Homo sapiens: one gene and its partners. The gene in region 4 interacts genetically with the main gene of each other region. Each region holds a gene or a part of one and is shown on either strand. Other genes may lie near its edges. The genes, in order: RASEF, SBDS, ATP13A3, FASN, DPM1, DET1 and EIF2D.

Region 1 (3,500 bases), on a different chromosome or scaffold from region 4:
CATGATCTGTAAATATTTAATAGCTCAGCATAATATTATATGAGCTATGTTGCAGAAAAGGGAAACTCTCAAAGCAAATATAAATATCACTAGTAGATCCTTGTAAAATAGCTACTGTATTGAAGGAGTCACAGAGGCTTGCCAAAAGTTAGAATTTAGCCTTGTGTTTAATCAAATGAACTGAAATATTAGGCCTTTTATTACTTGAGACCTAGTAATCACTTAGAGATTACATGAGTGTATGTGTATGTTTATACACATATGTCCAGTGTTGCTAGTTAATTTAGTAATATGTCAAAAATTTGAAATTAGAAGTGAAAGCATAAACAAAAAGTTTCCGACTCTCTATTTCTTTGTGACTTTCAGATTCACGTTCATCCCCTTTTCATTTGGGTACTTTTGATAAAAAGAATAATGTACTTAACATCCTGGTGTTAGAAATGGTCAGGTTGCCATTTAGGAAGACCTGTTACGAAGGCTTATTGGTGATCATTTCTAAGAAAATTGTATCAGGTTTAAGTGGTTTCTACTGTTCACTGATTAGCTCAATAAAAAAATTTAATGGCTTGATTTATAGATGGCTGACTATTCTGTTATTGAGAAATAATCGATTTTTAAAAATGTGTAGGTGTGATGTCATTTTTGACTAATATTTAAAACTGATTCTAAGCAAATTGGGGGGAAAGGTATACAACTGAAAAGTATTTCAGAAATTTCACCATGATTCATTTTGGAAAGATTAGACACCATGAAAGCCTCATAAGAACTGGAGTAGAGCTCATCAACGAAAGATTCTAGGGGACAAAGTCATCACGTCCCCAGCATGTTTGAGTGACGTAGCACTCATGTGCCTACCTCCTTGAGCTGTAATGAGAGGCCACCGTAGCCTCAACACCATGCCCCTTCTGGGTGTGTGTGGGGGGGTGATTATTTTGACATAAGAAGATAACATTTTATTTTCTTTTTGATGCTAATATAAAAATGTAATAAAAGCATGTTGTACATCAGATTAGATGTACAATAAAATTGTATTGTTTTTATAGCTTTATTTGGTTTTAACTTTAAAATTTATTTTGGCTTTGTTCTTCGCAAGAACTCTAACAAAGATTTAATTTGTTTTGTACTTTTACATAGTTAATTATAATGAAATTATTGAGTGTTGGCAAGATGGTTGACTTTGAAAAGGATATGCAGTTCAATTGAGTTTGAGAAAGTTTGACCTGTACCTATGTTTTTATTTTTACTTTTAAAAATTTTCAACTTTTATTTAAGATTCAGGGGGTACATGCACAGATTTGTTACATGAGTATATTGCATAATGCTGAGTGTGCCTATATTTTCAATTTAGAGTCTAGATGTTTATTCAGGTGAATTCTTAATTCAGAACTTGATGTTTTCTTTGCTCCTTGTCAAAATACAAGTAGGCTTAAAATAAATCATAACCAGTAATGAAGACATGGAACTGAAGTAGTTTGTAGTATATTATAATTAGAATGGTTTTCTTATGTGCTTTATAGATGGACCTAAAATCAGTTTCAGAAGGAGAGTTTTATAAATAATGCAATAATATATTGGCAATATATTTTCATTGTTATTGTTATTAATAGTATATATTAACAATAAATAAATATTAAAATATATTAACAATATATTTTATTGTTATTGTTATTAACAGTATATTAACACACACACGCACACATGCACACACGTAGCTAGCTATATAGATTGAGTTATGATATAAAATTCTTGGCTCAGAATAAAGACTTTGTAATTGAGCAGTATTGAGAGAGAGAAAGTTAGTTACATCATCTTTTTAATTAATTTTAAACATTTGCTAATGGCATAAAAATACTTTTGACTTCTCAGATTTACATGGCTCACACTTAATTATATTAAGCTTACCTTCTCTCATCTAAGCATATCCACTTCTTGTTTCTCATATCTGAAGACCTATGTATCGTGCCCATTCTCCCTTTCCAATGATTCGTGTAAGCAAATTGGTAGGGTGGTGCCCAGGGTGTAGTGGGTGGTAAATAAGTCATAACCATAATTGGTAAACTTAGATTCTTATGGAAATCAAATGGAAAAGCTAAAGTAAACAGGAATGTATACAGTTTCTTATGATTCTCTTATTTGATGTGAATTTCTCCCTCACTTATAAAATCTTCAGAGTTTCACTAATGGTAAGATCTATAGAAGTCAGGAGTTCCAGCCTTTATCTGAGGCACCTCCCTCCCTATGAAACGTCTCCCAGAGGGGTGTTTCCAGACGGTGTGTCAACATTTAGTGGCAGAAAACTTACGTGTCAAATCATACATTCCAGTCATGTTTCTAATTGCTTATTTTTATCAGATGTTTCTAATTGCCTATCATTTTTTGCCATGTTGATTAGAAATATGACACCCAGAAAAGCTTATCTTATTTTGTCTTGTGCAACCTGAGAGGATGTGGTCTTCTTCATGTATCAGCTCTTCAAGTATTTGAAGAGAGAAACCATTAAGAGTTAAGTTGAGTACACTGAATCTTATTTTTCAGCTCTGAGGGTCTTGAGTCTGACATTGTGGTTGCCTTTTCTGTTTGGGCTCTCAGCAGCCCTTTTAAGTAGAGATGTTATCCAGAAATGGACACAATGTTCAGAATATGGTCTGACCACCTTAGAGTAAAAAAGCTCATATATTCTGCATACATTTTTATGAATACAACTTGCGATTGTGTTTATGTCTTAGGTACTCTAATTCTTTTTGTATCAGGAAATAAAGAACATTATTTTTTTAATGGCTTTGTTTGTTAAGTGTTTGATGTAAGGTTCTTTATCTTAACTGATTGCTGCATAGAATGAACTGATGGTGCTTTGAGCATTTTATTTCCCCTAATGCCTAATCATGAAATAACACTGCGGCTCTTAGCCACAGTCGGCCTACTTGATTCCATCTAATGGCATGTGGTCTATTGCCTGTATGTTCTTGAGCATTTCCAGCCCTCAGGTAAATTGGTCTTCCCCTTTATTACCAGGTCATCCCGCTCTTCCTATGTGGATGAGGACTGTGACTCCCTGGCCCTCTGTGATCCTCTGCAGAGGACAAATTGTGAAGTTGACAGCCTGCCTGAAAGCTGCTTCGACAGCGGCTTGTCTACCTTGAGAGATCCCAATGAGTATGACTCAGAAGTGGAATACAAGCACCAGAGGGGATTTCAGAGGTCACACGGGGTGCAGGAGAGCTTTGGAGGTGATGCTTCAGACACAGATGTAAGCCCCAGAAACCACTGCTCTCCTAGGCCTTCTACGTGATTGAAATCTGTCACCTTATTTGCCTTCTATCTGTCATGGAAATCTGTTTTAAAGGTCATAGATGTAAAGCATAGTTAGTAAAATGCTTTTTCCTCCACAGAGTTAGGGAGAAATTCTCATAGATTGCCATTCAGTGTCACTCTATTCCCTAATATTAATAGCATTGACTGTTGATTTAGCTGCATAGTTTTCTTCTTTTTAATCCATAATG
Region 2 (4,239 bases), on a different chromosome or scaffold from region 4:
CTCCCCTGCCGCCCCAGGGTCCTTGCCCGCCGAGTGCCCTTACCCATCCTCCTCAGAGCCGACAGGAGACTAGGATCTCGGACCTGGATAGCCCGATGATTCGCACTGGTACCGCGAGACGCACCGAGCTACCTCGCCGCGTTAGCGGCGTACCGAGTGCCTGCAGACCTGTGGGCAGCCATGACACTGCCAGGCCGGTCCTGATTGGTTCAGAGGACGAAGAGGTGGGCCCAGAGGAAAGCCCAGAGCTCCGGGAAAGGAAGCCAGTGCCCGGTGCGCTCTCGGCCCTGCTCCGATTGGCTCAGAGGGGAAAGGGGGCGTGCCCAGAAATAAGCACCTCCCAGAGTTCCAGGCGATGAAGGCGGAGCGCTTCCGCCTCCATTTGGATTGGCTCAGACTGGGAAAAGGCGGGCCCAGAGAGAAATGATTGGCATGGGAAAATTAAAAGAGGAAAGGAGCGGGGAGCGGGGGAAATGCTATGTGGGCCTGTTTGGATCTTAACTGAAATAAACCGACTGTAGAAAGGCATTATTTTTGGGAAACCCGAGGATGGACTCGCTATTAGATGATATTAAGGAATTGTAGTTAATCTCGTCGCGTGTATCTGTTAAGGGCTATAGGCTGAAGTATTTAATGCTGAAACCATATGATGGTTTCTTTAAAATACCCCCAACCGGCCGGGCGCTGTGACTCAAACCTGTAATCCCAGCACTTGGGAAGCCGAAGCGGGAGGATCGCTTGAGCCCAGGAGTTCGAGACCAGCCTGAGCAACATAGTGAGACCTCGTCTGTACAAAAAATTTTTTTTAATTATTTATTTAATTAAATTAGCTTGGCGTGGCCGCTCACACCTGTAGTCCCAGCTACTTGGGAAGCTAACGCTGGAAGATCGCTCGAACCCAGGAGGTCGAAGCTGCAGTGGGGCCATGACCCTGCCACTGCACTCCAGCCTGGGTGACAGAGTGAGACTGACTTAAAAAAAAAACTGTAAATAAAAAAGCAACAAAAAAATGAAAAAAGAATAAAACAAGGATGGCAAAATGTTGATAGCGGGGTGATGGGTACATAGAAGGTTCATTACACTTTTTTGTCTACATTTTATGTTAAAATATTTCTATTATAAAAGGGTGAGTAAATAAAAATATTTATTATAAAATAATTCTATTATAAAAAATATTTATATTATAAAGTGGGTCTGGCCCTTGAATTCCGCGGAACGAGGTGGTGCCAACGCTGTGTTTTAACCCGGTCACTAAACATCCGCGAGCATCCTGTCAGAGCTCTCAGCTCATTGGCGAAAGTAAATACGCCAAGGAAAAGCACCTCCCTTTTTGGGCGTGGAAAGATGGCGTAAAAAGCCACAATACGCAGGCGTCATCGCTCACTTTTCCCCTCCCGGCTTCTGCTCCACCTGACGCCTGCGCAGTAAGTAAGCCTGCCAGACACACTGTGACGGCTGCCTGAAGCTAGTGAGTCGCGGCGCCGCGCACTGGTGGTTGGGTCAGTGCCGCGCGCCGATCGGTCGTTACCGCGAGGCGCTGGTGGCCTTCAGGCTGGACGGCGCGGGTCAGCCCTGGTTCGCCGGCTTCTGGGTCTTTGAACAGCCGCGATGTCGATCTTCACCCCCACCAACCAGATCCGCCTAACCAATGTGGCCGTGGTACGGATGAAGCGTGCCGGGAAGCGCTTCGAAATCGCCTGCTACAAAAACAAGGTCGTCGGCTGGCGGAGCGGCGTGTGAGTAGCCCCCTCCCTCGGGCCTGGGCCTGGGCCTGAGCCGTCACCTCCGAGGCGGCCTGTCTCTGCCCAAGTCGAGTGAATGGGCCAGGCTGGGGTGTTGGCCGGGGAGGAAATGGAACATTCCTGCTGTGAGCATGAGACGTCGCTGTCCGAGCTTGGCGCCTAAGCCAAGGGTTTCTTCTTTATTTGGTTGGTTCGGATTGGGTTGTTGGTTTGGGGTTTTGTTTTGTTGGTGTCATAAAAGCTGCAGCCAAGAAATCTCGTAATTGTGGTCCTTTTCCTAGAATAATGATGGCTGAGAACCTAGTCTTACGAATACTGTCATAGTTGTGGGTACATCTGGTGTCATAGATCTCAGTAGCCCTAGCAGTTTAAAGTGCGTAGTGTCTTCACTGCTGCCATCTAGGGACTGGCATTCCGTGGCAGCAGCTGTCTGCACCCCACCCCACCCTTGTGTTTCTTACGTCCTCCCATGACATTTTTCTCCAGTGAGCAAATGGTAAGGCAAATACGGTTCTGAGTTTTGAAAATGTTCCCTCAGGCCGATGCGGGCAGTTCACTTGAGGCCAGGAGTTCGAGGCCAGCCTGGCCAACATGAAACCCCATCTCTACTAAAAATACAAAGTTAGCCGGGTGTGGTGGCGCATGCCTGTAATCCCAGTTACTCAGGAGGCTGAGGCGGGAGAATCACTTGAACCCGGGAGGCTGAGGTTACAGTGACCCGAGATCGCGCCATTGCACTCCAGCCTGGGCAAAAACAGTGAAATTCCATCTAGGGGCGGGGGTTGGGGGGTAAGAAAAAGAAAACTGCCCTCTACACTAAAGGTCATCAGGGGGATTTGTTGTGTCTTGCCGTTCATGTTGTTGCCATCTCGTATTTAAATGTAAATGCATGTCCAAGTTTCAAGTATATTCACATAGGACTTTCTCTCCTGCCCTCACAAGGGAAAAAGACCTCGATGAAGTTCTGCAGACCCACTCAGTGTTTGTAAATGTTTCTAAAGGTCAGGTTGCCAAAAAGGAAGATCTCATCAGTGCGTTTGGAACAGATGACCAAACTGAAATCTGTAAGCAGGTGGGTAACAGCTGCAGCATAGCTAACCCTAATAACCATTTATAACGTATTTGTAGATATATTAAACATTAAAGGCTGTTTTTCTGGAGGAAAGACTAACCAAGCAATAATGTGAACTGCACAGTGTCACTTCTAATAATAAAGAACTTGGTGGTTTTGTTTGTTTTTTGTGGTTTTTTTTTTTTTTTTTTTGCCAAAACCTCCTGAAATCAGATTTTCTACTAAATTACCTCATTTTTCTATAAATTGCCCCATTTATAGAATGTGGTATACCTGAAAACTGAATTTGTTTTCAAGTATTTCATCTTTCAGATCCTTTTTTTTTTGGGTGGGGGGACAGAGTCTTGCTCTGTTGCCCAGGCTGGAGTGCAGTGCACTTCACTGCACTCAGCTCACTGCAACCTCTGCCTCCTGGATTCAAGCGATTCTCTTGCCTCAGCTTCCAGGGTAGCTGGGATTACAGGTGCCCACCACCCTGCCTGGCTAATTTTTGGATTTTTAGTAGAGATGGGGTTTCACCATGTTGGCCAGGTTGGTCTCAAACTCCTGACCTTGGGTGATATGCCCGCCTTAGCCACCCAAAGTGCTGGGATTACAGATGTGAGCCACTGAGCCCAGCCAAAAGATTCTTGCATCTTTTGGGCAAAGCTCAAACCATTACTTACATATTGATAGCTGGAGAGGATGAAATTTAATTTTCTCTCCATCCAGTTACTCATTTTTTATGGTTAGTTAATAAATAGTGTGTGATAGAGAAAGATAGTGATTTCTTAAATGTGTTGGCATTTTTTTAGATTTTGACTAAAGGAGAAGTTCAAGTATCAGATAAAGAAAGACACACACAACTGGAGCAGATGTTTAGGGACATTGCAACTATTGTGGCAGACAAATGTGTGAATCCTGAAACAAAGAGACCATACACCGTGATCCTTATTGAGAGAGCCATGAAGGACATCCACTATTCGGTGAAAACCAACAAGAGTACAAAACAGCAGGTGAGTGGTTTCTCATGTCATCAAAATATAGCCATGGAAATCAGTTTTCTCTGAAGAAATCATTAAAATAATGGGTCTGGGGCCAGGCACAATGGTTCATGCCTGTAATCCTAGCACTTTGGGAGCCAAGATGGGAGGATTGCTTGAGGCCTGGAAACAGCCTGGGAAACATAGGGACGCCCCATCTCTAAATTTTTTTTTTTTTTTTTTGAGACAGAGTCTTACTCTATTGCCCAGGCTGGAGTGCAGTAGTATGATCTCGGCTCACTACAATCTCCACCTCCCGCGTTCAAGCAAGTCTCCTGCCTCAGCCTCCTGAGTAGCTGGGATTATAGGCACGTGCCACCACACTCAGCTAATTTTGTATTTTTAGTAGAGTTGAGGTTTCACCATGTTGGCCAGGCTGGTCTTGAACTCCTGACCCTAGGTG
Region 3 (3,500 bases), on a different chromosome or scaffold from region 4:
TATGCTTCTCATCTTAGCTAAATATCAAAATTTGAACATTGAGATTCCTGGGTCTGTCCCAGTCCTAATGAAACATAATCTCTGAAAAAATAGCCCTGACTTCTGTTTTCATTTAGTTTTTGCTTTACTGTGTTTTAATGCACCACTTTTTTTATTTTTTCAGACTAAATTTAAATCAACAAACTTTAAAACGGACAGTCGATCTTGACCTTACCTCTGGGTCAATTGCTGATGGATGACTGCACTGCGTGAGGGAGTCTGCATAATGCCAATTTATTTTGGCAACTTTCCCATCCTTTGGAGGTAATGCTTCAGCAATAATCACTTTATCCTGAGGTAGAATCATTCCACAATCTCTGGCCACAGAGACAGCAGTCAACATACTGTCACCTAATTTTCAAAATATTTTAAATGTATTGAAATTAAAATGGAAACGTGAACGTATCAAACATGTACTTGCTGAGAATCTACTACAGTCTCCATGACTGGGCTGGCAGAGTAACGATAATGTATGGTTCTTCCACTTACAGTTTAAAAATAACAAAATTGGAGCATACTTATCAAAAGAAGCCTCAAATAACGCAAGCACGTTATATGCTAAAGAAAACATCTCACCCACAATTTTTAAAGCCAAATATAATTCTCAATCTTTTCCAGTCATGCACTATTTGTATCTACACAATACCTGGCACGGTGCTACACACAGATCAGGTGGCTCAATAAATACTTACCGAAATAACTTTACAAAGTGACTAGTGGTCTGTGCAAGAACACCAGCACCATATCATAGAAAATGATGAATTACAAAAGCAAGATCATACAAAACAAAAAGGTAAGACAGGTAATAAGAACAGGTGTAAACGAGAAACAAGAGAGACAACTTCTCAGTCATGAGAAGAAAGAAGAGCAGCAAGAACAGGATCTTATTAAGGAGAAGCAGACAAAGGTTTGTGGATCCCACTGCTACCAAAACAGAAGAGCGAGATATTTCTTTCCTCAATTTCCACACACTATTTCCAAGAATATCTTCCTATGACCTTTGGTACACAAAGCCATATTCTGGCAAGGGGAAAATAAATAAATAAATAAAAGAGGAGGACGAGGAACAGGTGAAAAGTGTCTTGACAAAGAAGACGCAAGAACTAAGAATGGCTGGAATGCTAACAGACTTAGTTACCTTGAGTTATACGGTAAAATTATGTTATTAGATAGATCTCAAGAGTCTAAAACACAAAAATGTATACAGACTTTCTCCATATTAGTCTTACTGAACACGTAAGTGCCATTAAGTATCTTAAATCTGATTATCTGCTAAGAAAAAAAAACAAAAAACAGAGCTACCACAATTTCACACAGCTAATGAGTAAGAGTTATCTAATATTATCAACAGTATAGTAACATCAGGAGAATCCCTTAGATGTACTAGAAAAAAAAAAGTAGGCTATTTCACTAGAATTCAAGCTAGGGTAATAAACAATATCTTACATATAAACATTTCATGCTATCGAATATCTATTAATCATTTTCTATGTAGCTGACAGTTCTAAAAGTTGCAAAGGACCCCAACATGAGTAAAATATACTCCTAACCCTCAAGAATCTTATATTCTAGTACAGAAAACAAATCTACAAATAACACAAGGTACAATAAGTGCTATAAGAAATATACGAATAAAGAGAGAAAACAAAAAGGAGTCAAGTTTAAATTTTTACAGTGTACTTTTACTATTCTTTTTTTTTTTTTTTTTTTTTTGAGACGGAGTCTCGCTCTGTCGCCCAGGCCGGACTGCGGACTGCAGTGGCGCAATCTCGGCTCACTGCAAGCTCCGCTTCCCGGGTTCACGCCATTCTCCTGCCTCAGCCTCCCGAGTAGCTGGGACTACAGGCACCCGCCACCGCTCCCGGCTAATTTTTTGTATTTTTAGTAGAGACGGGGTTTCACCTTGTTAGCCAGGATGGTCTCAATCTCCTGACCTCATGATCCACCCGCCTCGGCCTCCCAAAGTGCTGGGATTACAGGCGTGAGCCACCGCGCCCGGCCGTACTTTTACTATTCTACTACACTTTCTATAAATAGGATTCGCTAGACCTCAAAAAGAATATGACAAAGTTATCTTGCGCTTGGGAAAATATTCAGAGCTAAAAGAGAACTTAGGTTGAAACCACTATAGACTATATAATATGATTTTATAACTGATTATCCCTCAATATAATATAACTTCAGCTCTGTCACACTCCATTTGCTTCTGTGTTCTTTTATAAAGTCTAACCTGTGACCATGACGGTGCGAATGTTGGCTTTATGCAAATCTTCAAGTACTGCAGGGGTTTCTTGCTTTAATTTGTTCTGCATTATAATTAATCCCATAAAATCCATGTTGTTCTCAATTGCATCTCTGCAGAAAAAGAAGTTTTAACACATAATGGTTTAGTCAATTGAGTAAGCAACTTATGTACACAAACTTGAAATATCTAAACAATTAAAAATGTCTATAAGTTATAATGCAGTTTAAAATATCTATAAATGAAAACATTTTATATGCTGAATAAACCACGTGTGTGTTCAAGAGTTCAGTATCTCAATATAATAATCATTTGGAAATGTATGTCACTGTACACTAAACAATTCTAATACTAAGGAATATTCATTTTGTGTAGTATCCAAAAATAAGCATAAATCTATTCTTTACTGCCCTCTACAACATATCCTAATTTAAATGTTAAGTGAAAAAGAAAAAACTGTGCCACAAGCACATTCAATACAGTTTTCGTGGATTCATTATCAAGTCTCAGATCAATTCTATAAAACAATTACTGATCCTGAAAATGTGACACAAGAACCATTAGCAATCCAACAATGAGATCTACTTGGGACCCAGAGATGGGTCTTTGAAAATATTACTAATATAGTTATCAAGATGCTATTCTTTAAATAACTGAGTATCAAGAATGCAGCAGGCACTATGCTAGTCACTGGGAGGTTAAAGACAAAAAGGGATGATCTCTGCTCTCAAGACACTTGGGTGGGGAAACAGACATGCAACCAAAGAGATGCACACAAAAATAGTACGTGCTTTAGCACTATAAAAGAGATGAAGTCTGTTCAGTGATAGTTACGTTCTTAAGAAATCTCAGGTCAGGCATTGTAGCTCATGCCTGTAATCCCACCACTTTGGGAGGCTGAAATAGGAGGATTGCTTGAACCTAGGAGTTTGAGGCCAGCCTGGGCAGCATAGTGAGACCCCGTCTCTACAAAAAATGAAAAAACAATTAGCTGGGCATGATGACATGTGCCTGCAGTCCCACTACTTGGAAGGCTTGAGGAGTGAGGATCATTTAAGGCCCAGGTGGTCAAGTCTGCAGTGAGAAGTGTTTGTTCCACTGCACTCTAGCCTAAGCAACAAAGAGAGATCCTATCTCAAAAGAAACAAACAAAAAAAGAAAACAAACAAAAAACACCTCAACCTACCTGAATTATATCATAGAAATTTTTTTCTCAATG
Region 4 (3,399 bases):
TCCGTGCGCGAGGTGCGGCAACTCACGCTCCGGAAACTGCAGGAGCTGTCCTCAAAGGCGGATGAGGCCAGCGGTGCGTGTGGGTGGCCAGGCGGGAGTGGGGTCCCCGGGCCTCCCCAGCCCTTCCTCCTTGTTGTCTGGACCGTGTCCCGGCAGGCATACCGCCCTTCGTCACGGGTGCCATTCTGAGCGTTCCCACCCCGACTCCCACCTGACGTAGCACCGTGGGGACCTGCGTGCGTGTCTGTGTGTCCTTGCGTGGGTGCCAGGGCTCTGCACCCAGACCAGCCTGGCATCTGCCCCTGTCTTCACAGAGCTGGCATGCCCCACGCCCAAGGAGGATGGTCTGGCCCAGCAGCAGACTCAGCTGAACCTGCGCTCCCTGCTGGTGAACCCGGAGGGCCCCACCCTGATGCGGCTCAACTCCGTGCAGAGCTCGGAGCGGCCCCTGTTCCTGGTGCACCCAATCGAGGGCTCCACCACCGTGTTCCACAGCCTGGCCTCCCGGCTCAGCATCCCCACCTATGGCCTGCAGTGCACCCGAGGTACTCCCGGGCCCTCCTCTGGAAGCGGTGGTCAGTGCTGGCCATCACGGGGCCCGTGGCTGCCGCCTGCACATGCTGAGTGCCCGGCACTGCCATTGCAGCTGCGCCCCTTGACAGCATCCACAGCCTGGCTGCCTACTACATCGACTGCATCAGGCAGGTGCAGCCCGAGGGCCCCTACCGCGTGGCCGGCTACTCCTACGGGGCCTGCGTGGCCTTTGAAATGTGCTCCCAGCTGCAGGCCCAGCAGAGCCCAGCCCCCACCCACAACAGCCTCTTCCTGTTCGACGGCTCGCCCACCTACGTACTGGCCTACACCCAGGTGAGAGCCAGGCTGGTCCTAGAGGCCTACGGCAAACGTCTGGGCTCCCCACCTGTGCCCTGGCTTTGGGGGACCGTCGCTTAGGAGGCCCCGCCCCTTCCATCTGCTCAGCAGTCCCTCCTTCCTCTCAGAGCTACCGGGCAAAGCTGACCCCAGGCTGTGAGGCTGAGGCTGAGACGGAGGCCATATGCTTCTTCGTGCAGCAGTTCACGGACATGGAGCACAACAGGGTGGGTCCTGGACACCCCTGAGGCCGCAGGACCCAGAGTACTGGGCAGGAACGGAAGGGGGAAGGGAAGGATGGGATGGGACGCGAAGAGCGTTAAAGGCCCCCCAACTTCACCCCTTTAATAGCCGATCCCGGCCGGATGCGGTTGCTCATGCCTGTAATCCCGGCACTTTGGGAGGCTAAGGCGGGCAGATTACCTGAGGTCGGGAGTTCGAGACCAGCCTGACCAACGTGGAGAAACCCCTTCTCTACTAAAAATACAAAAATTAGCCAGGCATGGTGGCACTCACCTATAGTCCCACCTACTCGGGAGGAGAATCGCTTGAACCGGGTAGGTGGAGGTTGCGGAGGGAGGAGAATCGCTTGAACCGGGTAGGTGGAGGTTGCGGTGAGCTGAGATCGCCCCACTCCATCTAGCCTGGGTAACAAAAATGAAACTCGTCTCAAAAAAAAAAAGCCCACCCGCAGTGTAGCACAGGGCAGGCCGGTGCTGTGGGTGCTGCCAGCACCTGCTCAGAGCCCGACCCCACAGGTGCTGGAGGCGCTGCTGCCGCTGAAGGGCCTAGAGGAGCGTGTGGCAGCCGCCGTGGACCTGATCATCAAGAGCCACCAGGGCCTGGACCGCCAGGAGCTGAGCTTTGCGGCCCGGTCCTTCTACTACAAGCTGCGTGCCGCTGAGCAGTACACACCCAAGGCCAAGTACCATGGCAACGTGATGCTACTGCGCGCCAAGACGGGTGGCGCCTACGGCGAGGACCTGGGCGCGGACTACAACCTCTCCCAGGTGCGCAAGGGGCCTGACGGGAACGGGGACAGGGACAGGAGTGGGGTGGGACGGCAGCTGATCGCATCCCCTGCAGGTATGCGACGGGAAAGTATCCGTCCACGTCATCGAGGGTGACCACCGCACGCTGCTGGAGGGCAGCGGCCTGGAGTCCATCATCAGCATCATCCACAGCTCCCTGGCTGAGCCACGCGTGAGCGTGCGGGAGGGCTAGGCCCGTGCCCCCGCCTGCCACCGGAGGTCACTCCACCATCCCCACCCCACCCCACCCCACCCCCGCCATGCAACGGGATTGAAGGGTCCTGCCGGTGGGACCCTGTCCGGCCCAGTGCCACTGCCCCCCGAGGCTGCTAGATGTAGGTGTTAGGCATGTCCCACCCACCCGCCGCCTCCCACGGCACCTCGGGGACACCAGAGCTGCCGACTTGGAGACTCCTGGTCTGTGAAGAGCCGGTGGTGCCCGTGCCCGCAGGAACTGGGCTGGGCCTCGTGCGCCCGTGGGGTCTGCGCTTGGTCTTTCTGTGCTTGGATTTGCATATTTATTGCATTGCTGGTAGAGACCCCCAGGCCTGTCCACCCTGCCAAGACTCCTCAGGCAGCGTGTGGGTCCCGCACTCTGCCCCCATTTCCCCGATGTCCCCTGCGGGCGCGGGCAGCCACCCAAGCCTGCTGGCTGCGGCCCCCTCTCGGCCAGGCATTGGCTCAGCCCGCTGAGTGGGGGGTCGTGGGCCAGTCCCCGAGGAGCTGGGCCCCTGCACAGGCACACAGGGCCCGGCCACACCCAGCGGCCCCCCGCACAGCCACCCGTGGGGTGCTGCCCTTATGCCCGGCGCCGGGCACCAACTCCATGTTTGGTGTTTGTCTGTGTTTGTTTTTCAAGAAATGATTCAAATTGCTGCTTGGATTTTGAAATTTACTGTAACTGTCAGTGTACACGTCTGGACCCCGTTTCATTTTTACACCAATTTGGTAAAAATGCTGCTCTCAGCCTCCCACAATTAAACCGCATGTGATCTCCACCACCGTCCTTTCTTCCCTCCTCCCTGACCTGGCAGCTGCAAGCTCTCCAGCTCCACCCCACCCAGTCACGGGGCCGTGAAGGGGATGCCCTCTGTCCTCTGGTCCCCAGTTCCCACACACCCCTAGGCCATGTCCCAGAGCCGGGGCTGGGCCGGGGAGTGAGGAAGGAGCCCGCGTGGCAGCCCCGGGCTTCCCGGGAAAGCGCTGGGACTGGCGGGGGGGGGGGTACCGAGGCTCTGGCCAAGAAACACCACCAGTGAGAAACGTGTAGGAGGTACAGACACTGGGAAGTTGGCTTCAGCTGAGGAGAGGCCCCTCGTGGAGAATAGTATTTGCTTGAAGTCAGTGGATTGCAGGCATTCGCCCTGCCAAAGATGCCGTCACAGCCTCACCAAGACGGTGTCAATAGCGCCACTGGCTGGCCAGGTTGACCCAGAAGACTTGGGTTTAGGCAAAGGAGTGGAGGCTGGGAGGGAGCAAGGGACAGGGAGCCCTGGGC
Region 5 (3,500 bases), on a different chromosome or scaffold from region 4:
GACTTAACCACACTACTTTGTTAACATAATGAATGAATTATAAGTGATTACCAATAATGAGCCATTCTGGCATTCCTGGAATAAACCCTTTTGTTCACGGTGTTTTATTCTAATAACTCAAGGCTTAATTCCATTTATCAGAGAAGCCATCTTCCACCTTTTTCTGTGGTCTGAAAGAATTCAGATAACGAACTACCTGTTGATTTGCTCCTCAGGACTCCTAAAATACATCATTTAGTCTCAAATGTGTGTTGTGTGTGTGTGTGTGTGTGTGTGTGTGTGTGTGTGTGTCTACTATCTATACAGATAAATATTTTAGAGACAAGGTCTCACTCTGTCTCAGGGTCACCAAGACTAGAATGGAGAGGCATGATCATAGCTCACTGCAGCCTTGAAGTCCTGGGCTCATGTCATCCTCCCACCTGAGCCGCCTGAGTAGCTGGGACTACAGGCGCATGCCATTGTGTCTGGCTAATTTTTGTTATTTTTTTTGTAGAGACAAGTACTTGTTTTGTTGCCCAGGCTGGTCTCAAACTGCTGACTTCAAGCAACCCTCCTACCCTGACTTCCCAAACTTTGTTTATATTTTTGATAGAAAAAATAGTATGTGTATTTTTGATTAATAAAAAATGAAAATAAGCCCAAAACCAGTAAGATAAATGTTTCCAGTCATATTTCTTTCAAATATTAGAAATAGTACCTACCTAATAAATTCAGGAATAAATTTTGGCTGAAATTTGAAAAGAATAAACAGTAAGTCAGTAAAACAGGCTAAGACTACCATAAATAGCTAATAAAGAAACATACCACTTACATGGTGTGAGAGATCAGCATCCATAATAATGATGTAGTTTCCTGTGGCATGTTTCATTCCATGAATATATGCAGTTCCTAAAAATGAAAGTAGATCCATTCAAGAAAATCAACAGAAATCTTTACATATACATTTGAACATCAAGGAAATTGTTTAGCACCTGAAGAGCACACATTAGTTCTCTAAAAGTCAGATTAATAAATTGGTATTTTTCACCTTAAGTACATAAGTTCATGTATATTACATATATAATCAAGAAGGTAGCTGGCCACACACCCCCATTCAGATGTCAATTTAATACAATAGATCATACCTCTATTTCAGTATAGCAAAGAAATAGTTTATAAGTTCAAAAGTCTAAGATTATGTAGCACAATTATCACATTCTCATGCTTTAAAAACCCATCTGGTGTTTCCTTGGCATCCCCCTAAGACACTGATGAGCTCCACATTTACAAATCAGCTTCCTACTTAATATCTCCACTTGGGTATTTCAGAAATCTCAAAGATAACATTGCAAAATCATCTTCCAATTCTCTACCTCTCTCTTACAGGCCACCTCTCCAGGAAAGGCACCAACTATCCAACTGCTCCATCCACAGGTCTAGAGATGATTCTTGATTTCCTGCCTTTAACCATAACTTCTAAACTGTAATTAAGTCCTATTGATTCTCCATCCAAAACATTTCAATTCCCTTTTTCTTGTCTTTTACACCGTAAACCTGGTACGCTAGACCCTTGCTCTGGTATTTGGGGCCAAAGGCCTAGGTGACAATTACTCAGCCAGCTCCATGCCTCAAAGTCCCACAGGGACTTGGCAGGCTAGGGTAACTTGTTAGGAGCAGGACTTGGGGATTCCTGCATTCTCTAGTCCAGACCCCTCACAAGTGTCTTATGAGCAAGGCTGAACTCTTCTAACTTATTTTGTTAAGAAGTGAATATCGGCTGGGTGTGGTGGCTCATGCCTGTAATCCCAGCACTTTGGGAGGCTGAGATGGGTGGATCACTGGAGGTCAGGGAGTTTGAGACTAGCCTAACCAACATGGCAAAACCTCATCTCTACTAAAAATACAAAAAATTGGCCAGGCGCAGTGGCTCACGCTTGTAATCCCAGCACTTTGGGAGGCCGAGGCAGGCGGATCATCTGAGGTCGGGAATTCGAGACCAGCCTGACCAACATGGAGAAACCCCGTCTCTACCAAAAATACAAAATTAGCTGGGCATGGTGGTGCATGCCTACAATCCCAGCTACCTGGGAGGCTGAGGCAGGAGAATCGCTTGAACCCGGGAGGCAGAGATCGCGGTGAGCCGAGATCGCGTCATCGCACCCCAGCCTGGGCAAGAAGAGCGAAACTCCGTCTCAAACAAACAAAAATTAGCCGGGCATGGTGGTACACGCCTGTAATCCCAGCTACTCGGGAGGCTGAGGCACAAGAATGGCTCAAACCCAGCAGGCAGGGGTTGCAGTGAGCCGAGATTGTGCCACTGCACTCCAGCCTGGGGATCAGAGTAAGACTGTCTCAGAAAGATAAAGGAGTGAATATTTACACTTTTTGGTTTCATGGCAGTTTCCAGATTTTTTTGAATCCCAAAGAATCTTCTGGGTTCAGATACTGAGAACATTTGATGCTTGGGAATTGATGGTCTTCAAGATAGCAGACTCCAGTTAAGCATTGTGCTTTCTTCATGTTAAGTTTTAGCACAAATAAAGGCAGAGTTTCCTCTCAGAATTACTGAGCTCATATGAGCTTTTCAATAATGCTGTATGTTTAAAAGCTGGAAAAGCTTCCTTTTTTAAAAATAAAGAATAACTGTTTTTATCACTAGGCTGGAGTGCAGTGGTGTGATCTCGGCTCATTGCAACCTCTGCCTCCTGAGTTCAAGCGACTCTCCTGCCTCAGCCTCCCGAGTAGCTGGGATTATAGATGCGCGTCACGACGCCCAGCTAATTTTTGTATTTTTAGTAGGGATGGGGTTTTACCATGTTGGCCAGGATGGTCTCGATCTCTTGACCTCGTGCTCTGCCCACCTCGGCCTCCCAAAGTGCTAAGATTACATTTGTGAGCCACTGTGCCCAGCCTTAAATGAAGAGTAACTTTTTAAACTTGTAACTTAAAGGATGTTCCAAGGTTTGCAGCATGCTGGTCCAAGATATTTGCCCTCAGACCCATTCTCTGGCCCTTCCCTACTCTGTGCTATATTGGGTGAACTACATATTCCAGATTCTCTTGTCAACTGGCTGCCAAACAGCTTTGGGAGGTACAGGTGGAAGACTGCAGGGAGGGGAAAAGGGAAAAGTCTAAGTGGTCCTCCCTCTGTTACTCTCCCTCCTACCTCTGACTGGGAATTTCCCACAGTTCTAGCTCCTGCCAGGCAGCCCCTGCCCCATCATTCTAGCTCCCTCTGGGCAGCCCAGGTTCTTGGGCTCTAACATCTCTTCCTGCCGTTGCTCCATCCCTAGGGGTGGCAGTGACCTCCAGCTGTTACTAATCTTAGTAGCCTCACTGCTCCATTTGGTTTCTCAGGAACTCCTTCAGGGGTGTAACCAGAGACTCAGTATTAAATTCCCTACACTGAAAGACTTACAGTGGTTCTGTTTTCCTGAGTGGGTCTTGACTTATACAGGCGACCCAAGTTATACCATTTAAATGTCATTAAGATCATTAAAAACCATCATAGGAAGTTA
Region 6 (3,500 bases), on a different chromosome or scaffold from region 4:
AGCTTTTTGCACTGAGGTGTTTGCTGGTAAAGCCTGAGCCCACAACACATCTGTCTCCGTGGTAACAGCTGCACCGGCCTTTCATACTCGCTGCTTGAGAAAGCTGCTACCATCTGTGAACACAGCGGCGTCCGCCTTCTCTAGGGCCACATCTTGAAGATCAGGTCGGCCAGTTTCGGTAGTTTCTAACAGTTCCTTACAGTCTTGGATAGTAGCTGGATTTAAACACCATGTGGGAGAGAAAGTCAAACGAGGCTGATTCAACAACTCTGATATTGTAAAATGCAAGCATCTGACATCCATTTACCTGAAGCACTTTGTAGTAAAGTCTCTACAGCATGAGGAGCTGTAAGGGTTAAATCCTGGCCCAGAATTAACTTATCAGTTTCTTGGACTAGGCTTGCTCTAGCTGCTACTTGGCCATCCAGAGGCCACAGGATCCAGCCTCTTAGATAAATAAGCCATTGGGTGTCTCCAAGGTCTTAAAGTCTGAGTAAGCACCCCCTTAGCAATTCCCTGGCTCTCATGGACAAACAGATGAAAAGGCTTTGAGGTATCTGGGAGGCCTAAAGCAGGGGCTTCAGTTAAAGTCTTTTTCAGATTTTGAAAAGCCTGTTCTTCGGTGTCTGTCCAAATCAATGGGCCATTACCTCTTATAGCAGTATACAAGGGCTTTGCAATCTCCGCAAACCCCAATATCCAGAGATGACAGTATCTCACGGCCCTGTCATTCAGGCTCTTCTGTTGCAGGCAGGGTGAGAACTTTTTGTTTTCTGACTTTTCTTGTGGCAGTAGTGGGCATTCCTTTTTCCAGTGCCTAGTCTGCTTGCAATAGGCACATTGGTCTTTTCCTAGAGAGGCCTGTTCACCTCTTTTACTTTTCTGGTGGGAACCCAAGGTTCCTTGGCCATTTTTTCTGGAATGGGGGCCTTTCCTTTCTGCCCTCTTGGATAGCCATTAGTAAGATTTTTGCTTGTCTTTTATAGGCTTTATCAGCGGCCTTTTCAGCTGCCTGTGTTGCTTGTTTCTGTTTTCATACTCTCGATTGTCAAAAACCTTCTGGGCTATTTCTAAAAGCTGACTGTTATTTATCCCAGTAAATCCTTTCAGTTTCTGGAGCTTTCTCTTAATGTCCAGGGCTGCCTGAGCCTCAAATGCCAAATTAAGAGCGTGGCTATTTTCGGGAGCCACCGGGTCAAAAGGAGTATAAATGCGATAAGCCTCCTGGAGACATTCTAAAAACGCTCCTGGTGACTCATCAGGCCCCTGGACAACTTCAGTTGTCTTAGACAAGTTTATGGGCTTCTGAGTGGCTCCTTTAATATCCGTGAGGAGATACCAGTGAAAATCGTCCAAGGCTCTCCTTCCACCTGAGGAATTTGGGTCCCAATTAGGCCGGGTGGAGGGAATGACCTCCTCCAGGAGGTCTCTAGCTTCCTCCTCAGGCCTACCGGTTAATGCAAGGAAGTGTTTTCTGGCCTCTCTTCAGATGCGCTCCCTCTCCTCAGAGGTAAAGAGAGTTAAAAGGAGCTGTTGGCTGTCATCCTAGGTGGGTCGATGGGTCTGGAGCATGGACTCCATCAGTGAGGTCAAAGCCTGAGGCTTTTCAGAGAAGGGAGGATTATGGGTTTTCCAGTTATACAAGTCAGAAGTAGAAAAAGGGACATAAAACAGGAAGGGGGCTGAGCGCTCATCACCTGGAGGAACTTGTGCCTCTCTCAGTGGTAGTAGAGGGGCTGCTTCCTCCCAGCGCGGTCACAGCCGGGAGGCAATTGGGCGGTGAGCCCACAGGGGACGTCTCCTCGAAGAGACATGTCCTCCCTTCTTCAGAGGGAGGCAAAACAGGGGGAGCCGAACTGGCTGAGGGTCGAGGTGAAAACACGGCCTGGTTCAGGAGGACTTTGGAGGTGGAATTGTGAATGGCACATGAACGGAGCCATGGAGGAGGATTTCTAATCAAACTTAACCATTGATTGATATAGGGAAACTGATCAGGGTGGCCAGGAGTTCCAGTAACAACCCGCCACACGGCTTGAACAATTGTAGGATTCAATGATCCTTTAGAGGGCCACCCAACTCCAAACCTTGGCCATTCTACTTCACAGAGTGTCCGGAGCTTGCCTTTTTAAAGGCAGACTCCGTAATTCTCTGAAAAACCAAGATGTAGGGGTGGGTTGCCCCTACACACCTGTGGGTGTTTCTCGTAAGGTGGGACGAGAGATTTGGAAAAGAAAAAGACACAGAGACAAAGTATAGAGAAAGAAATAAGGGGACCCGGGGAACCAGCGTTCAGCATATGGAGGATCCCGCCAGCCTCTGAGTTCCCTTAGTATTTATTGATCATCTGTGGGTGTTTCTCAAAGAGGAGGATGTGTCAGGGTCACAAGACAATTGTGCGGAGAGGGTCAGCAGACAAACACGTGAACAAAGGTCTTTGCATCATAGACAATGTAAAGGATTAAGTGCTGTGCTTTTAGATATGCATACACATAAACATCTCAATGCTTTACAAAGCAGTATTGCTGCCCGCAGGTCCCACCTCCAGCCCTAAGGCGGTTTTTCCCTATCTCAGTAGATGGAGCATACAATCGGGTTTTATACCGAGACATTCCATTGCCCAGGGACAGGCAGGAGACAGATGCCTTCCTCTTGTCTCAACTGCAAGAGGCATTCCTTCCCCTTTTACTAATCCTCCTCAGCACAGACCCTTTATGGGTGTCGGGCTGGGGGACGGTCAGGTCTTTCCCTTCCCACGAGGCCATATTTCAGACTATCACATGGGGAGAAACCTTGGACAATACCTGGCTTTCCTAGGCAGAGGTCCCTGCGGCCTTCCACAGTTTTTGTGTCCCTGGGTACTTGAGATTAGGGAGTGGTGATGACTCTTAAGGAGCATGCTGCCCTCAAGCATCTGTTTAACAAAGCACATCTTGCACCGCCCTTAATCCATTCAACTCTGAGTTGACACAGCACATGTTTCAGAGAGCACGGGGTTGGGGCTAAGGTCATAGATTAACAGAATCTCAAGGCAGAAGAATTTTTCTTAGTACATAACAAAATGGAGTCTCCTATGTCTACTTCTTTCTACACAGACACAGTAACAATCTGATCTCTCTTGCTTTTCCCCACACCAAGAGAAAAATTTTCCAGCATACATTGGAGGGGGCTCCAACACTTGCAAGGCTGGGAGGAAGTGTTTCCCATTTTTTTTTTTTTTTAGAAGGCAATTTAACAGAATTTGAGCAGAGGTATCAGATCCAACATGGACAGAGAAACTCACTCCCTGGGGGGCTGGAGTATCAGAAAAACAGAATTAACATAACCAGAAAGAACAGAAAAATCACAACAGCTAATACCACTTGCCACATTGCTGTAGCTTTAAGATTGAGGGAGGGGGACTAGAGGCCAGCCTGAGGTCTCCTGGGTCAGTTGGATCTAGGCGTTCTCCCTCTTCTTCTAGATCTGTACCCTAAATACCTTTGGTGTCTCCATGACTCAAA
Region 7 (3,500 bases), on a different chromosome or scaffold from region 4:
GTCTCTTCTCTCTTCCCTATGGCATCCCTCAGCCTAATTTATGATATATGAATTGCCTCCCCTTTAAACTTCCTTATGGGATGGCTATGACTTCTTTAAGGTAGAGGAGATAATTTATATTTTTGAAATTAATGAAAGGGAACATTAAATATCCTTCCAAGACCCACCTGGAGATTTAATTCACAGCAGGAATAAAACAAAGGCAGTGATAAAGTCAATAGAGGAGTTACTAATACAGAAGTTTAGTGTTTAGTTTAATATTTGGTCAAGGGATTTTTGAAAGTAATATTTGTACATAATCTGAAGAAAACTGAGAGTGGACTGAGTTTGGTTTTATGATACAAGACCTTCGAATTGGTAACCTTGGTATTTTTACCACATGTGTCAGAAGATGATCCTAACATGTGCCCTTCCCATAGATTTTCCATGACCCTGGTCTCTGGCTTCCTTCTTCTTAGAGCCCCTGTAGCCATTGGAGTTGCAGCCATGTCCACAGCTGAGATGCTCACGTCAGGCCTGAAGGGAAGGGGCTTCTCTGTGCTCCACACTTACCAGGACCACTTGTGGTGGGTACAGAGTTTCTTCTGTTTTACAGAGAACCGGGGCAGCTGGGGAGAGGATGGGGCCTGTGATTCAGGAGTGAGAGTTTTGGTCCTAGCCATGTCTTTAAGCAAGTTGCTAAGCCCAGACTTTTATTTCCTTACAAATATAAAGAAAATATTTTTTTCCCCTGTTTGGACAAGTAATGAGAGAGAACTTTATTTTCTAAGTGAATTATAGAATCTTAGACCCAAAGGAAGACCTTAGGGATCATCTGCTCTGCCTCTCAGTACAGTGATACTCGTTTTTTTATAGCCCTGGTCAATCTGGCCCTAGCTGCGATGCACATTTTAGACATCATGTGACCCCATGATGAGTGCTTCTGAATCCTAATCACTGCAGGGTAGACCTTTAGACTCCAGGATTATAACCTGATTACTTTTATGTTATTCAGATTTCACATTCCAGACTCCTCCTCCTCATGAAAGTAACGCATTCTGACTGTAAAGGTTGCATTCTTGAGACGCGTACCTGTTCATTTTCTGGTTATTTTCTTGTCATTTTAGCAAAACAGTAAGCAGTGATTTTCTCAAAGCACACATTTAGCCAAGTATTGTGGCCTGTTGGTATAGATTCATTCTTATATTTTCCAGCCCAGTCTTGGAATTATTAATTTTTTTTTTTTTTTTTTTTGAGATGGAGTCTCGCTCTGTCGCCCAGGTTGGAGTGCAGTGGCGTGATCTCAGCTCACTGCAAGCTCCACCTCCCGGTTCACTCCATTCTCCTGCCTCAGCCTCCTGAGTAGCTGGGACCACAGGTACCTCCCACCACGCCCGGCTAATTTTTTGTATTTTTAGTAGAGACGGGGTTTCACCATGTTAGCCAGGATGGTCTCGATCCATTGACCTTGTGATCCACCCACCTCGGCCTCCCAAAGTGCTGGGATTACAGGTGTGAGCCACTGCGCCCAGCCTTTTTTTTTGAGATGGAGTTTTGCTCTTGTTGCCCAGGCTGGAGTGCAGTGGCGCAATCTCAGCTCACTGCAACCTCTGCCTCTCGGTTCAAGTGATTCTCCTACCTCAGCCTCCCGAGTAGCTGGGATTACAGGCTTGTGCCCAAAACATCCGGCTAATTTTTTTGTTTTTAGTAGAGACAGGGTTTCACCGTGTTGGCCAGGCTAGTCTCGAACTCCTAACCTCACGTGATCTGCCCATCTAGGCCTCCCAAAGTGCTGAGATTACAGGCGTGAGCCACCGCTCCCCGCCGGACTTACTGATTTTACAAGTACTTGCCAAGTCCTCCTTTGCTGGTACAAGCTCATTTTTGCCTGTTTTTAGATATTTGAGGGCTGATGACTGATGTTCTCCTAGCACCTTGTTGTTTAACTATCAGTCTGGGCAACAGCAATCAAGGTCAGGTTGTCTAAGTTGTTTTAGCAGCAGCTGCTTTGGTTCTCTCGCTGCACCTTGAAAAAAATATTTATGGTATTTACCTGATCAGAATAGCCTAAACATACCCTTTGGCTTTACTGTGAACAACACTGAGAAGCCTTGCCGTAACTATTAGTTAAAACTTAGTTTGATTTGCATAATGTTGGCTAAGATAAAGTTTTTTACTGCTTTGTGTGCTTTGCTATGTGGCATCGCCTGTTTTCCTGTCTTCCTAAGGCTTAGTGGCATAAAACCATGGCAATCTCTGCTTTCCACGTTAGACTGCATTTGATGTAACACAGAAGCCACTGATTTTGCAGTCCTTGAGCAGTCCAGGTGTTTGTGTTTTATTACATATGCTGAGCCGTGGGTTTGCATTTCACCAAACAGATATTACAGATGCATTCGCGATCTTAATGTTCATATTTAATTCAAATTGGTTTTGTTATTAACTCAGATGAAGGGAACATTTTTGGGAGTTTATCTTAAACTCCTTTTTCTTTAATCTTTCTCAGTCTTGGGATGTCTATTAATAGTATTATTCTTTTGGGATAGGGAGGAGACAAGATTTATTCTCCCCATTTCAGAGATGAAGAAACTGAGGCATGGAACTTTTAGGGGCCCAGAATTGAAAGTACGCTTGAGATGAGGGCACAGGCTCTCTGCCCCCTCCTGGCCACTCCTGCCTGTTGGCTCTCTGCTGTCTCTGACCTCACTGCTGACTCCTCTGTGGCCAGGGCTGGAGAGTATTGGAGCTGCTGCTTGATGTTTCTGACATGAGATTTTTCCAGGCGGTCTGGAAACAAGTCCTCTCCACCTTCCATTGCTCCACTGGCCCTGGATTCAGCAGATCTCAGTGAAGAGAAGGGGTCTGTCCAGATGGACTCCACCCTGCAGGGAGACATGAGGCACATGACCCTGGAGGGGGAAGAGGAGAATGGGGAGGTTCACCAGGCACGTGAAGACAAGTCTCTCTCAGAAGCCCCAGAAGACACCAGCACCAGGGGCCTGAACCAAGACTCCACAGATAGCAAAACGCTTCAAGGTATAACTCTAGGAGGAGAAGAGCCCATCTCCCCACCTCTCAATTTAGGAGCCTGACGAACTCCACTCCACTGCTGACTAGAATGGCCCTTAAGCTTCCGGGGGAGGAGGGGAAGGTCCTTATTTTCTGTGAGGGTGGCGCAGCAGCCCTTTCACATCTTGTTTTTGAATCCTTTCCACATAAGTCACGTCTTCCTGGGAGCTAATCTGCCCTGGCATTTGCCTGTCTTCAGCTACAAAGCCCTCCAAGGTTTCTTCTGGCTCAACTTCTCTGGGTGAACACTCCTAGCTTGGTGGGACTTTGTGGCTTGACTCCTTCTCTGGGGTCAACCCTCTTTAAAGGCTCAGTGCTCAAGAGAGGCTGGGAGCTTTGGTACCTGGGAATGGGTTCCTTTCAGAGCCAAGTGGGTGAGGTAGGGATGAAGCTGGGGGTCGTTTTCTTGTACCAGGTGTTCTGTATCCCTCAGGAAGGATGTGGCTCTTGTC

What was found.
Region 1: changes in FASN (region 4) and RASEF together harm fitness more than expected from each alone (negative genetic interaction), as found in Homo sapiens cells (one large-scale study listed by BioGRID).
Region 2: changes in FASN (region 4) and SBDS together harm fitness less than expected from each alone (positive genetic interaction), as found in Homo sapiens cells (one large-scale study listed by BioGRID).
Region 3: changes in FASN (region 4) and ATP13A3 together harm fitness more than expected from each alone (negative genetic interaction), as found in Homo sapiens cells (one large-scale study listed by BioGRID).
Region 5: changes in FASN (region 4) and DPM1 together harm fitness more than expected from each alone (negative genetic interaction), as found in Homo sapiens cells (one large-scale study listed by BioGRID).
Region 6: changes in FASN (region 4) and DET1 together harm fitness more than expected from each alone (negative genetic interaction), as found in Homo sapiens cells (one large-scale study listed by BioGRID).
Region 7: changes in FASN (region 4) and EIF2D together harm fitness less than expected from each alone (positive genetic interaction), as found in Homo sapiens cells (one large-scale study listed by BioGRID).

What each region holds. Positions count from the first base shown.
Region 1 is NC_000009.12:83,000,643-83,004,142, reverse strand, and holds part of RASEF (ras and EF-hand domain-containing protein), read left to right. Parts: intron 1-3,012; coding exon 3,013-3,247; intron 3,248-3,500.
Region 2 is NC_000007.14:66,992,787-66,997,025, reverse strand, and holds the start of SBDS (ribosome maturation protein SBDS), read left to right. Parts: upstream 1-1,439; 5' UTR 1,440-1,608; coding exon 1,609-1,736; intron 1,737-2,684; coding exon 2,685-2,814; intron 2,815-3,608; coding exon 3,609-3,809; intron 3,810-4,239. Other genes in the region: S-adenosyl-L-methionine-dependent tRNA 4-demethylwyosine synthase TYW1, read right to left, coding at 44-47. UniProt on the Homo sapiens protein: Required for the assembly of mature ribosomes and ribosome biogenesis.
Region 3 is NC_000003.12:194,431,503-194,435,002, forward strand, and holds part of ATP13A3 (polyamine-transporting ATPase 13A3), read right to left. Parts: intron 2,395-3,500; coding exon 2,270-2,394; intron 391-2,269; coding exon 215-390; intron 1-214. UniProt on the Homo sapiens protein: ATP-driven pump involved in endocytosis-dependent polyamine transport. Uses ATP as an energy source to transfer polyamine precursor putrescine from the endosomal compartment to the cytosol.
Region 4 is NC_000017.11:82,077,838-82,081,236, reverse strand, and holds the end of FASN (fatty acid synthase), read left to right. Parts: coding exon 1-73; intron 74-314; coding exon 315-545; intron 546-646; coding exon 647-867; intron 868-998; coding exon 999-1,097; intron 1,098-1,628; coding exon 1,629-1,880; intron 1,881-1,956; coding exon 1,957-2,094; 3' UTR 2,095-2,899; downstream 2,900-3,399. UniProt on the Homo sapiens protein: Fatty acid synthetase is a multifunctional enzyme that catalyzes the de novo biosynthesis of long-chain saturated fatty acids starting from acetyl-CoA and malonyl-CoA in the presence of NADPH.
Region 5 is NC_000020.11:50,945,033-50,948,532, forward strand, and holds part of DPM1 (dolichol-phosphate mannosyltransferase subunit 1), read right to left. Parts: intron 892-3,500; coding exon 815-891; intron 731-814; coding exon 705-730; intron 103-704; exon of another isoform or gene 1-102. UniProt on the Homo sapiens protein: Transfers mannose from GDP-mannose to dolichol monophosphate to form dolichol phosphate mannose (Dol-P-Man) which is the mannosyl donor in pathways leading to N-glycosylation, glycosyl phosphatidylinositol membrane anchoring, and O-mannosylation of proteins; catalytic subunit of the dolichol-phosphate mannose (DPM) synthase complex.
Region 6 is NC_000015.10:88,540,182-88,543,681, reverse strand, and holds part of DET1 (DET1 homolog), read left to right. Parts: intron 1-3,500. UniProt on the Homo sapiens protein: Component of the E3 ubiquitin ligase DCX DET1-COP1 complex, which is required for ubiquitination and subsequent degradation of target proteins. The complex is involved in JUN ubiquitination and degradation.
Region 7 is NC_000001.11:206,602,466-206,605,965, reverse strand, and holds part of EIF2D (eukaryotic translation initiation factor 2D), read left to right. Parts: intron 1-458; coding exon 459-566; intron 567-2,761; coding exon 2,762-3,015; intron 3,016-3,500. UniProt on the Homo sapiens protein: Translation initiation factor that is able to deliver tRNA to the P-site of the eukaryotic ribosome in a GTP-independent manner.